Regions from separate parts of the Homo sapiens genome. Here regions 2 and 3 are each linked to region 1. The links come from fine-mapping of genetic effects on gene expression. A gene starts in region 1. Each other region holds a variant in brackets. All regions are shown on one strand. Distances are between the middles of the regions.

What was found.
Region 2: its variant is fine-mapped to the expression of AKAP5 in whole blood (INTERVAL, PIP 0.92).
Region 3: its variant is fine-mapped to the expression of AKAP5 in whole blood (TOPMed, PIP 0.91).

Annotation. Positions count from the first base shown.
Region 1 is chr14:64,463,497-64,467,738 of GRCh38, reverse strand. AKAP5 (A-kinase anchoring protein 5) reads right to left here and starts at 2,240. Exons shown (of 2, transcript NM_004857.3): 1 at 2,126-2,240. It also overlaps a transcript of ZBTB25 not described here. RefSeq lists silencers at 1,966-2,035, 2,046-2,445.
Region 2 is chr14:64,410,825-64,415,066 of GRCh38, reverse strand. It overlaps MTHFD1 (methylenetetrahydrofolate dehydrogenase, cyclohydrolase and formyltetrahydrofolate synthetase 1), which reads right to left. Exons shown (of 28, transcript NM_005956.4): 3 at 3,918-3,977; 4 at 2,542-2,595. Among named protein-coding and RNA genes, the nearest start is that of MTHFD1, 25 kb to the right of the region's middle. The variant G/A (reference allele first, on the strand shown) is at 1,761.
Region 3 is chr14:64,436,221-64,440,462 of GRCh38, reverse strand. MTHFD1 (methylenetetrahydrofolate dehydrogenase, cyclohydrolase and formyltetrahydrofolate synthetase 1) reads right to left here. Exons shown (of 28, transcript NM_005956.4): 17 at 1,291-1,367; 18 at 197-337. Among named protein-coding and RNA genes, the nearest start is that of AKAP5, 27 kb to the left of the region's middle. The variant T/G (reference allele first, on the strand shown) is at 1,709.

The sequences.
Region 1 (4,242 bases):
ACTTTAGAGATTATTTGAGATTACTCAAATCCAGCCAGATGACAAAACTGAACTCCAGAGGGGAGCAGTTGTCTTGTCAAAAGCCATGCAACTAGATAAGGTCATAGCCAGAGTTAGAACTAGAGACTTTGACTCTCTAGTTTTACCATTATAACATAAGGTTTCTGTTCTAAAAATGTATGTTCCATCAAGGAAGTGCTATTTTTCATACATATTCTTAGGAAAATTTAGCATTACTGTCATTTCCCACTCTTAAATTAGTTGTACAATTTTGACATTTTCATTTAAGTACTGTATCTGCTGTATCACATGTTTCCACCATAATCTGCACATAGTTGGAAGTCAGTAAGAGTAGTAATAGCTGACATTTATTGAGCAATTCTTGGGTATTAGGCAGTGCATGCACTTTTACATACATCTCTAATCCTCACCACAATATTACAAAGATGGTGGTATCACCACGTACAGATGAAGCAATTTGGCTGAGATTACGGCAGAGCTGTAACAGAGCTCAGATTAACACAAGATTGCTTGTTGCTTAAAGCTTATGTTCTGAAACTGGGCTTTAAGAGTTTCGTCAGAAAATGAATTGTTTGGGGATACTAATCTGCAGTGTTTCATTAGTAAAAAAATTAAAAAATTGATTAATGGTCATTTAACCATAAGGCACTTATCAACTCATAATTGAACCACGAGTAGACTGAGTTCTTGTCATTTGAAAACCAAGCTTTTGAAATTCTTTATATTTTATTTTTTTGGTTCAGGAACTAATTTAAAAGCCAAAAATAAGTTGGCAAACTATGCAATTGGCAAACTTAGATAATATAAAGGTGTATTGAAAATTTAATCCTTAGAATGGTATGATGGCACCAAAGAATGGAAATGGGAGGTGATTATCCAACAAAGATCCTATGAATTTTAGTGGGTGGATGCCCTAAAATAAGCAAAGGGACTCATTCTTTATATTGTTTTTATGTAAATCCTTCACTGAAGTTTCATTTGGGTAACCCATAATTTTATGAACTGTAGAAGGAACTGGAACCCTGAAAATCAGTTTATGATCTAAGTAAATATTATCTTAGGTTGGGTGTTTCATACTGTGTGCCTCTAACAGAAAGATAAAGTCATTCTAGAACAATGACGGAACTAAAATATGAACATTTGACAGTGTTTCTCCTCACAATGTTTCAGTGAGCACTAGAACCTAAGCTGATAACTGTTTAAATCTTCTCACCTCTTGTGAGTTTTCAGCACCTGAGCATTTTTGTTAAGCAGAGGCTGTATTACCACATAATAGAAATATTGAAATGAGATGTTTAGGAGTCTGTCATTGGAAACTAACCTGGATTGCGCAAAGACAATCGTTTGAGAAGCTCACTTGAATGTATCTCACATACTAGAAATAAAACGAATACCCAAACAGAAACTTAACTAACGAGGGAAAATAATGCAGTCTGTAGACAATAAAACTTTGCAGAATGTCAGACTGCAAATGATTCGCTCTTAACCAGCAAGGGTAGCTTTATCGCCTCAGGAAATCTTAAAGTCCCTGTGCTCATTTCCTGATGGAATTGCAAGTCTCATGTCACAGAAAACACCCCCTTTCCTTTTTCCCTTGAGCAGCCAGTACCCGAGGAAAGCAATGCATCTTTCCCAGCACCAGATACGGACCACGAAGCTTCCTCCTGGAGGAAGGAATCTCGAATTCTGGCTTGACGCCCCTTATGGCAGGAGACAGAGCGCAGGATAAAGTACTCAAAAAGGAAAATGCCGGGGGCGTGGAACAGATAACCCAGCTTCAGGCTGTCTGCAGAATTATAATGTAATGGCCAGAAACCCAAAATCACATTTCTCAAAGAGGGATAAAGAAGGAAAAAAGCCACCGGCAACCCATGCTTCTAAGACAAGCTGTAACGCGAAGGGGATAGGTGGGCAGACCTGATGAGGGTCGCCCTGGCCGCGGATTCCAGCGGACAAGCGACCTCCCGCGTTCTTACTCCCAGCACCTCAGAGGGCTCGGATACCCCGTATCCAGTGGGCACCTCTTGCCCACTCCGCGGTCCGCGGACCGGACATTGCCCCCGACCCTCCTCCCCCGCAGGCTCCCCGCCCTGCCTTTACTTACGTAGGGCGTCGGGGTCCTTGGCCAACACTGCTCCCGAGGTGGCGGCGCGCTCGCGGGGCCCGCCGCCCAGGCCTCCAGGGAGCCGCGGTCGCACCCGGAGCAAGGCGCCCTCTGCAGAGCCCGCCGCCGGGTGCGCCCCCTCCCCACCGCGCGGGGACAGACAGCAGGCAGCGCCAATGCGAGCGGAGCGGAGCGGGCGGGCAGGGGCGGGGCGACCGCCGGAGGCGCGGGGCGGCGCGGGCGCCGGGACCCACCTGCAGCAGCAGCCTGCCTGCCTGCCGCGGGGAAGCCCATCGTGCTCCGCCCGGGCGCCAATCTCCACTGCCAGACCACATCAGCGCCGAGGCGGGGACCGCAAGAGAGCCAGCCGGAAGGTTCGGGGGGCGGGGGAAGGCGGGGGGGACCAGGGCAATGAACCCCGCGTTTTCTGAGACGCTAAATAGTGAGGTCCGGTTTCAAATTATAGACAGTCGCATTACACATCTCCTCTCCTCCCCCTCAGAATATTTAAAGACAAGGCAGACATCGCATTTTAAAAGCAGGATTCAAAACTGTGCATAGAATAGCGAGGTCATGTTTGTTTGAAGCGAAAATTACATATATAAATGGAAACAGAAAGAAACCCGACTTTCTCAGGAGTGGCTTGAGTGTCAGATCATCGTGGTTCATCGCCAAACAGGCTTTCAAACCTTTGTCTCCCAGTGGGAAGCAGGTGGAGGTGATTGGTGCAGAACTTTGGCCTGCAGGAGCAGCTGCATCTCTATGCGGACAAGGTGAGAAAGGCACAGGAACCCAGCTCCATCCATCTTATACCTTACATAGTTCCAAAAATAAGTTGAGGTAGCTTACAAGTTACCCATGATTCCCTTCAGGACATTCCCTATGAGGGCATTCCTGGGAGCTCCAGCTGTAAAATCTAGTAGGATCCATCACAATCCCAGCCTCCTCCTCTGGCCCCCATAGCATAGCATCCAGATGAAGAACCTGGTAAGGTGAAGTGAAGAACTACTGAAAAGCAGCCGCGTTCATCTCCTTTCTTCAACAGGATCACGACCTTAGGGAGTGTAAATGTCAGGTGTCCATTTTTGTATTTTTTCCGGAAATGTTTTATATTTGTAAGATTCTGTAGTTTCCACAGAGGCTTATCAAGGAAAGAACTCTTGAGACACAAAAGCAAAGCCAAATATAAGCTGTCAAGATCTTAAAATTACAGATAAAAGAGGCAAGAGTTGTAAAACAGGAAAATCCATAAGCATCTAGTTTAGTTGTAATTAAGAATTCAGGGATGGGCGCAGTAGCTCACACCTGTAATCCCAGCACTTTGGGAGGCCAAGGCAGGAGGATGGCTTGAGTCCAAGAGTTTGAGACCAGCCTGGGCAACATAGGGAGACAAAAAAATCTAAAAAATTAGCTGGGCATGGTGGTGCACGTATGGTCCCAGTTACTCAGGAGCTCAGGAGGCTGAGAAGGGAGGATCACTTGGGCCCAGAAGGTCAAGGCTGCTGTGAGCCACTACTGCACCACTGCACGCCAGCCTGGGCAACAAAGTGAGACCCTGCCTCAAAAAAAAAAAAAAATTCAGTCAGCCTTGTTCACTCAGCAAACACGTCTATCGAAATGGTCTGCGTATCTCTCTATGGGTTGCTAGCGCTGCTTGTTGCCAGTTTTGAACTTTAAGCCAAAAGAAATCCATTATGCTTATAAGCAATTGAGAACTATTCCTTATTGAGATCCAAGGTTTCTCAAAACTAGCAGACCTGGGAGTTTGCAAGAGTTTCAGGCAAAAAATAAGATGAGCTTATTTAGGTGAAGACAGGGTAAAATAGCTGTCTTATTTTTATTTTTATTTGAGACAGGGTCTTGCTCAGGCTGGAGTGCAGTGGTACAATCCCTGGCTCAAGCAATCCTCCCACCTCAGCCTCCCATGCAGCTGGGACCACAGGTATGCGACCACATGCCCAGGTTCTTCTTCTTTTTTTTTTTTTTGTAGAGATGGCGTCTCCCTATGTTGCCCAGGCTGGTCTTGAACTCCTGAGCTCAAGTGATCCTCCTGCCTTGACCTCCTACAGTGCTAGGATTACAGGTGTGAGCCCCCATGCCTGGCCTTCACTTGCCTT
Region 2 (4,242 bases), 53 kb after region 1:
ACCCAGGAGTTCAAGACCAGCCTGGACAACACAGTGAAATGTGATATCTACAAAAACTTTTTAAAAATTAGGGCCAGGGGCTGGGTGCGGTGGTTCACGACTGTAATTCCAGCACTTTGGGAGGCTGAGGTGGGTGGATCACCTGAGGTTGGGAGTTTGAGACCAGCTGGGCCAACATAGTGAAACCCTGTCTCTACTAAAAATACAAAATTAGCCAGGTGTGGTGGCACATGCCTGTAATCCTAGCTACTCGGGAGGCTGAGGCAGGAGAATTGCTTGAACCTGGGAGGTGGAGGTTGCAGTCCGCTGAGATAGTGCCACTGCACTCCAGCAGTGAGTTGAGATTGTGCCATTGCACTCCAGCCTGGGCAACAATAGTGAAACTCCACCTCAAAAAAAAAAAAAAAAAATTAGGGCTGGGTGTGGTGGCTCACACCTGTCATCCCAGCACTTTGGGAAGCCAAGGCAGGCCTCCCAAAATATAGAAAATTATTTTCTATAATTTGCACCTTACAATACAATAGCAGCTACTGGATCACTTGAAGCCAGGAGTTTGAAACCAGCCTGGCCAACATGGTGAAACCCTGTCTCTACAAAAATATAAAAAATAAGCCGGGCATAGTGGCGCATGCCTGTAATCTCAGCCTCTCAGGAGGCTGAGGCATGAGAATCGCTTGAACCCAGGAAGCGGAGGCTGCAGTGAGCTGAGATCATGCCACTGCATCCAGCCTGGGCAACAGAGCAAGACTCTGTCTCAAAAAAAAAAAAAAAAAAAAAAAAGCGGGGACAGGTGCGGTGGCTCACGCCTGTAATCCCAGCACTTTGGGAGGCTTGAGTGGGCAGATCACTTGAGGTCAGTAGTTTGAGACCAGCCTGGGCAATATGGGCAATTAAAAATACAAAAATTAGCTGGGCGTGGTGGCGCATGCCTGTAGTCACAGCTACTCAGGAGGCTGAGGCATGAGAATCGCTTGAACCTGGGAGGTGGAGGTTGCAGTGAGCCAATATTGCACCACTGCACTCTAGCCTGGGCGACAAGAGTAAAACTCTGCCTCAAAAATAAAATAAAATTAGCTGGGCATGGTGGCTCATGCCTATAGTCCCAGCTGCTCAAGAGGCTAAGGTGGGAGGATCACTTGAGCTTAGGAGGTTGAGGCTACAATGAGCTATGATCACACCACTGTGCTGCAGCTGAGGCAAAAGAGTGAGACCCTGTCTCTAAAAATACAATACAATAAAATAAAAAGAGCTAAGAACTCTAATAACTTATTACAGCAATAATACCCATGTTACAATCATCCAAATCAAGATGTAGAGCAGCAATGTCCAATCATCTTTTCTGCGATGGCAGAAATTTTCTATAATTTGCACCTTACAATACAATAGCAGCTACTTAATCCTTGCAAAGTGGCTAGTACAACCAAGGAAGTGAATTTTTAATTTTATTTCATTTTAACTAAATTCAAATAGCCTCATGGGGCTAGTGGCTCCCATACTGGACAGCGCATATATGGAACATTGCCATAACCTCAAGAAAGTTGCTTTATCCTCCTACAGTTTAGCATTAATCTCCCACCTACAGGCAACCACAGTTCTGACTTTAATCACCGCTGATTTGTTCTGCCTAGTCCTGAACCTCATATAAAAGGAATACATATTTGGTTTTTAGAATGCAGATAATTACAGGCCAAGGATCGGTTTTACCTATTTTTTTGAGACGGAGTTTTGCTCTTTTTTCCCAGGTTGGAGTGCAATGGTAC[G/A]ATCTTGGCTCACTGCAACCTCCGCCTCCCGGGTTCAAGTGATTCTCCTGCCTCAACCTTCCAAGTAGCTGGGATTACAGGCATGCGCCACCACGCCTGGCAAATTTTGTATTTTTTAGTAGAGACAGGGTTTCTCCATGTTGGCCAGGCTGGTCTCGAACTCCCGACCTCAGGTGATCTGCCCACCTCGGCCTCCCAAAATGCTGGGATTACAGGCATGAGCCACCGTGCCTGGCTCCAAGGATCAGTTTTAACAAACACAACAGATGATTTGGAAGCAAACAGTACTGCAGTCACACTTTGAGTACCAAATGTTCATCCCTGCACCATCTCCTCTGTGGGAGTCTGTGAAGAAAGAATACCTGGAGGTGCCAGGCGTGGTGGCTCACGCCTGTAATCCCAGCACTTTGGGAGGCCAAGGCGGGTAAATCACCTCAGGTCAGGAGTTCAAGACCAGCCTGGCCAACGTGGTGAAACCGCGTCTCTATTAAAAATATAAAAATTAGCCAGGTGAGGCGGTGGGCGCCTGTAATCCCAGCTACTCGGGAGGCTGAGGCAGGAGAATTGCTTGAACCTGGGAGGCGGAGGTTGCAGAGAGTCGAGATCGCATCATTGCTCTCCAGCCTGGGTGACATGAGCAAAACTGTGTCTCAAAAAAAAAAAAAAAAAAAATACCTGGAGGTCTTGGCTAAATGTGTCAGTCCCCAAAGCCCCCGTAAACCAAAACCAGAGAGGAAACCACTTCACCTTCCCTCTTCACAATCAACTCATAAAAGCTCACCTCAGATTCTGTGGTTGTTCTTGGTAACTTAATGTGAGTGGCTTTGATCCCAATCTGCAAAACAGACATTAAAAGCAGGTAAATGGCAAGACAACTTGAGATATTGAACCATTTCTTTTACAGACATGACTAACAAGCAAGGAGGTGTTGGTCATCATTTCACCCTTATATGTTCTGAAGAATGAGTCCCTCACTTCAACCCATTCATCATTCACTTGTTAATTGCCACCACTGCACTTCAGCAATGTCATGCTTGCTATTTCTTGAGAAAGGAAATTAAATCTTGGGACCCCAAATTCATTAAGTCAAAGGGAAAAGCCAAGCTGGGAACTGGGTCATGCAAATCTGCCTCCCCCTTTTTGGTTCCTAAATAAGATGTTACAAGATGAAAAGCTACATGCCTCCCCCATATTTTGCCCACAAAGAAATTCGTAGTGAGCTGCAACATCTTTATGATGTTTCTGTTAAAATTTCACCATGGCAATGTAAATCCCCCCAGCCCACCAGACACAAATGTATATCTGATTTTTCCCCTGCCCAATTCTGTCTATGTTATCTTATGTAAAATGCAGATTGCCTGCATTTTTCCTCTGCCCCACTTGTCTATATCGTCTTTTTTTTTTCTGGTTGGAGCTTCACTCTTATTGCCCAGGCTGGAGTGCAATGGCACTATCTTGGCTCACCACAACCTCCGCCTCCCAGGTTCAAGCGATTCTCCTGCCTCAGCCTCCCGAGTAGCTGGGATTACAGGCATGCGCCACCACACCCAGCTAATTTTTTGTATTTTTAGTAGAGATGGGGTTTCTCCATGTTTCTTAGGCTGGTCTAAAACTCCCGACCTCAGGTGATCCGCCCGCCTCGGCCTCCCAAAGTGCTGGGATTACTGGCGTGAGCCACCGCGTCCGGCCATCTGTCATCTTATGTAAAAAATGCAGATTCACTGAGCCAGAGAAGGTCATGAATGACTATTTTTCCCTACCCACCTCTTACATGAAAACGTGTACTTTTCAATAACCCACCCTTTCCTCTTTAAATTTGGAGAACTCGAAATCATCTTCGGAGAAAGGTATAGACCTGTCTCCCAGGTGTGTCCTTAATTTTGGCAAATAAATCTCCTAAAATGATCGAGACTTGTCACTTTCCTCAATTGACATCCTGCTCTTTGGGAAGAAAATCATTAATGAGAAAACAAAAACTCACGGGCAAACCAGAGGCCACAGATCTAACCCACCCATTTCTGACTTACAAAATAGATAAACTAATGTCTCCTGTGGGTGATAAAAGTTTTCACAGGGAGGACCAAAAAGGGCAAGGGGTAATCGATAGGACCCAGGTGGAGGTTGGGGAGGGTGATGGCACAGCTCTTCTGGCGTTACCTCTTCAGCAGCCTTCAGCTTCACATTTATATAAAGATTGGAATCATCTCTGTTGCCAACCTAGAATAATAAATGCATGCAAATCAGATGATTAGGGAAAGGCAAAGTGCACAGAAAAGCTTCTACAATTTTAGTTTTAATAAAAGAAATGTTTAATCATGCGACTCTTGTTGCAGAGAACTTTTACAGGAGTATAGGGAGGCTGTGGGGGCAGGAGGGATTATGTGAACACAGATGGTGTTACAGCCCCTCCCCTAAACAAGGCCCACCTGGTTCCCACTGCCAAACCCCAAACAGAAAGTAGAGGATATCTGCATCTGCACTG
Region 3 (4,242 bases), 27 kb after region 1:
ATACCAGCTATTATTCACTCTGATGTACTTTTTAAACATTTCATAATTATCTTGTAATTAGCAAAATAGGATTAAATTGATGAATTAATTGCAATGTCTTAAGTACAGCATTACATTTTGTTATTAATAACTGCTGAAAGACCCTAGGACAACAGACACAGATATGTCGCCAAGCCTGGCGTGTCTGGGTACCCACCAGATCTTCGGCACTGACGGGCTCTCCTTTCTTACTGGATGCCACCACCATTTTGCCCAGTCTCTCTCTCATGTCTTCTAGAGAAGTGGTGAGAGCCAGGACAGCCATAATTTCACTGGCCACAGAGATATCAAACTGGGCCTGTGGGCAGGGAAAAGAGGTACTAGCAAAAACTTTGTGTTAAACCAGAAGTGTGAATTGCAAAAGTGATCCTCTTTTACATCTGAGGCTTAAACAAATAGCTTAAAAGGATAGAATAACAGAATACTACCCAAAATACTTAATGAAAATAATCCTCTAATAGCAAAAAAATATATTAATTAATTATTCCAAGACCCTGAGTTGTCATTTTTTTTTTTTTTTTTTTTTTTTGGAGACAGAGTCTCGGTCTGTTGCCCAGGCTGGAGTGCAGTGGCACAATCTTGGCTCAATGCAACATCCACCTCCTGGGTTCAGGCAATTTTCGCGCCTCAGCCTCCCAAGTAGCTGGGATTACAGGCGCGTGCCACCATGCCCAGCTAGTTTTTGTATTTTTTTAGTAGAGATGGGGTTTGGCCGGGCTGATCTCGAACTCCTGACCTCAAGTGATCCGCCCGCCTCGGCCTCCCAAAGTGCTGGGATTACAGGCGTGAGCCACCACGCCCAGCCCTGAGTTGTCAGTTTTTTAAAATAAATGTTATAGTAGGACCAAAAAGCTATGATTTTATCCCTATGAAGGCCGCTTATAATCATGCGCTTATTGTTTCTTTCATATACAAGGGAATAATATGGTACCTCTTAAACCAAGGAGATATACAGTGAAATGGCCACAAAAAAGAAGCAATTTTAATCAATTTCTATGCAAGGATATTCACTTGGGGCTCTCCACCTCCAGGAAAAAATGCCGGGGGAAAAACACACAGGTGACACATGGGATTTATTGCAAAAGCTGTCAGGAGTGCTCAATGCCACACACCTACTCACTTCCATTTTAAAAGGGAGAAGGCAGAACAACACCTGGCAGTATCAGTCGTATGAGAGAGGATGGAGGAGGAGAGAAGCAGCAAGATCTAGTGCCTCTGAACTAATTTCCTTGGAAAGGGACAAATTGTTACCGTCCGTGTGTGACCCTTCTCCGTTGGAGCCTGTCCAATCGTGATCTTCCTCAGGAATCTATCATTGGTATCCAACACTACAGCAGACAGGCAAGATATAGAACGATTTTGAGTAAAAGGACCACAAAGTTAAAGGAAGCAGCAGAGTTTTAAAGCAATAAGTCTAATTTCATGATTGTCTATCAATATTTCAAAATGGATGGCAAAGCTAGAATATGTGTTAAAGTTAAGAAATGATGTTCATATACCATAAATACACAGGAGTTATTTTTACAGCAAAGGAATGTGGAATGGCTTGGTTTTATCCCATCTAGAGAATTCAAACAGTTAACTAGAAATCTGGAATCTATTTTAAAGCATATTCCACATATAAGAAAAACAGAGCAGTCTACATTTTTTCAAAAGACTGAGGTTTGTG[T/G]TGTTGTTCTGTGGGATGATGACTCATTGACTTTCCACCACCGTAAGAAATGCAGGAGCCATCAAATCAGGGCAAGTGCAAATATCTTTTGAAACACGCTGGGTGCCAGGCCTGGTCTGGAAATTTAGGAAACATAGCACACTTAGCAGAGAGAATTTTTATTCTGATGACAGAATATCTATCCAATTATATAACCACAAAAAACATGGCAAAGACCAAGCAACTAACCAACTAACGACCTCCCAGGACTAACTACTGTTAACATTTTAGTGTACCCTCAGTTCTGGCTTTTGGTATGTGTAGTGTAATAGGAAATATATTTGACCTTTGTCATGGGTTCCTGACAAAAGGCTCACAGAGCTCTTGGAATTCCAAGGGTGATAGGAGTGTCTTGTTATTCATTACAAACTCCTTTTGATCACACCTGAGTTTATGGTAATAAGTTACTTATGGTAGGTCTCCTAGACAGCCTCAGGAAAGGAATGGTCACCAAAAAGACCAAATGATTAGAGGGCTGGAACTTTCAGTCCCACCCACCAACCTCTGGGTAAGGTGTTAGGGGTGTATAAAACTCTTGAACAGGCCGGGCACAGTGGCTCACGCCTGTAAATCCCAGCACTTTGGGGGGCCAAGGTGGGCAGATCACCTGAGGTCAAAAGTTCGAGGCCAGCCTGACCAACATGGAAAAACCCTGTCGCTACTAAAAATACAAAATTAGCCGGGTGTGGTGGTGCATGCCTGTAATCCCAGCTTCTCAGGAGGCTGAGGCAGGAGAATCGCTTGAACCCGGGAAGCAGAGGTTGCAGTGAGCTGAGATCACTCCATTGCACTCTAGCCTAGGCAACAAGAACAAAACTCCGTCTCAAAAAAAAAACTCTTGAACAACATGATTTGATGAGCCTCTGGGCTGGTGAACACATCCAGGTGCTGGGAGAGTGATGCCCCCTACGCTTCTCTTCCATCTGGTTGTTTCTGAGCTGTATCCTTTATAATAAACCATAAACACAAGTGAAATGCTTCTCTGAGTTCTGTGAGCCATTCTAGCAAATGAACCTGAGCAGGGGGTTGTGGGGACCCTCCAGTTTATAACCAGTTGGTCAGAAGCACAGGTGACAACCTGGACTTGCGATTCGTGTCTGAAGTGGGGCAGTCTTTTAGGACTGAGCCCTTTACCTGTAGGATCTGCTCCAGACAGTTAGTGTCAGAATTGAGTTAAATCATAGGATACTCAGTCAATATCCACTGGAGAAGTGAAAGCTGAATTGTTGTGGAAGAGAAAAACTACCCATCTGGTGTCAGAAGTGAGGTGCTGAGAGTACTATGAGTATAGAGAGGAAACAGGAGTTGCCATTTCAGTATCAAATGCCAAACAATATCAAAGAAACACAAAATTAAATTGATCCATATTCCTACTAATAACATCATTGCTGATGGCTGAATATGTTTTAGAACAGAGTTTTTCATCTTAGAGATTGGTGAAGCAGTGTAAGGATGTGAGAAGCTCACAGAGTACAAATTTGCCTATATATTTTGTGGGTTTTTTTTTCAAGATGTTTTCTATTTCAAAATTAAAATAATTTCAAAGTAAAAACACACACACACACAAAATGAACAAAAAAACCCAGTTCATACTCTAAATGAGTCAAGGAGGAGAAGCATTTTTAAGGCACTTGATAATATGCCAAATTATTTTCCATAAAGACTGTCATAATTTCATACCAAAAGCAGTGTCTTATATAGCAATCAGACACACACACCCCCCACTCTTGCTGTAATGTGTTGTTAAAGCCAACCCTTATTTTTCAAAAGAAAAAAGTATCAGGTTTCATGTAACTAATATTTCTGTAAAAAATAGCTAGTCAATAGGTATGACTGCCTCTAGTTGCTTAGAAAACATGAATGAGACACGAAGCAAAAGAAAAGTAAATCGGATACTAAATCTTCAAAATGGACTTTTAGCTTATTCCTTATAAAATATTATACCATTTGTCTAAAGCTATTGAAGCAAAGGAAGAGAAATTCCAATGTGGTTTTAGACATTGAGAGTGTCATCTAAATAAGGCCATTAGCTAGCAACGGTTATTGAGTCAAGGAAAATCACAAAAACAGTCAATAAACTGGCCTTCAGCTCTATTCTGCATGAGTGGATGAAGATTCTTTCTCAATAGTGATACAGAATAGAAGGTTGCATTGTTGATGCAAAGTGAAATCTAAGCTACACTAGTTGTGCATTGAGAAAAGTAGCATATGGCAGTGAAGCCAGGAAACCTACTTACTGAACTGGTAAGTATTTAAACCTTGAAGGCTACCTAATATGCTATAAGAGAATTTAATAAAATGAGGTAAAAAAATGATTAGGTAGGCCGGGTGCGGTGGCTCATGCCTGTAATCCCAGCACTTTGGGAGCCTGAGGTGGGCGGATCATGAGGTCAGGAGATTGAGACCATCCTAGCTAACATGGTGAAACCCTGTCTCTACTAAAAATACAAAAAATTAGCCGGGCATGATGGCGGGTGCCTGTAGTCCCAGTTACT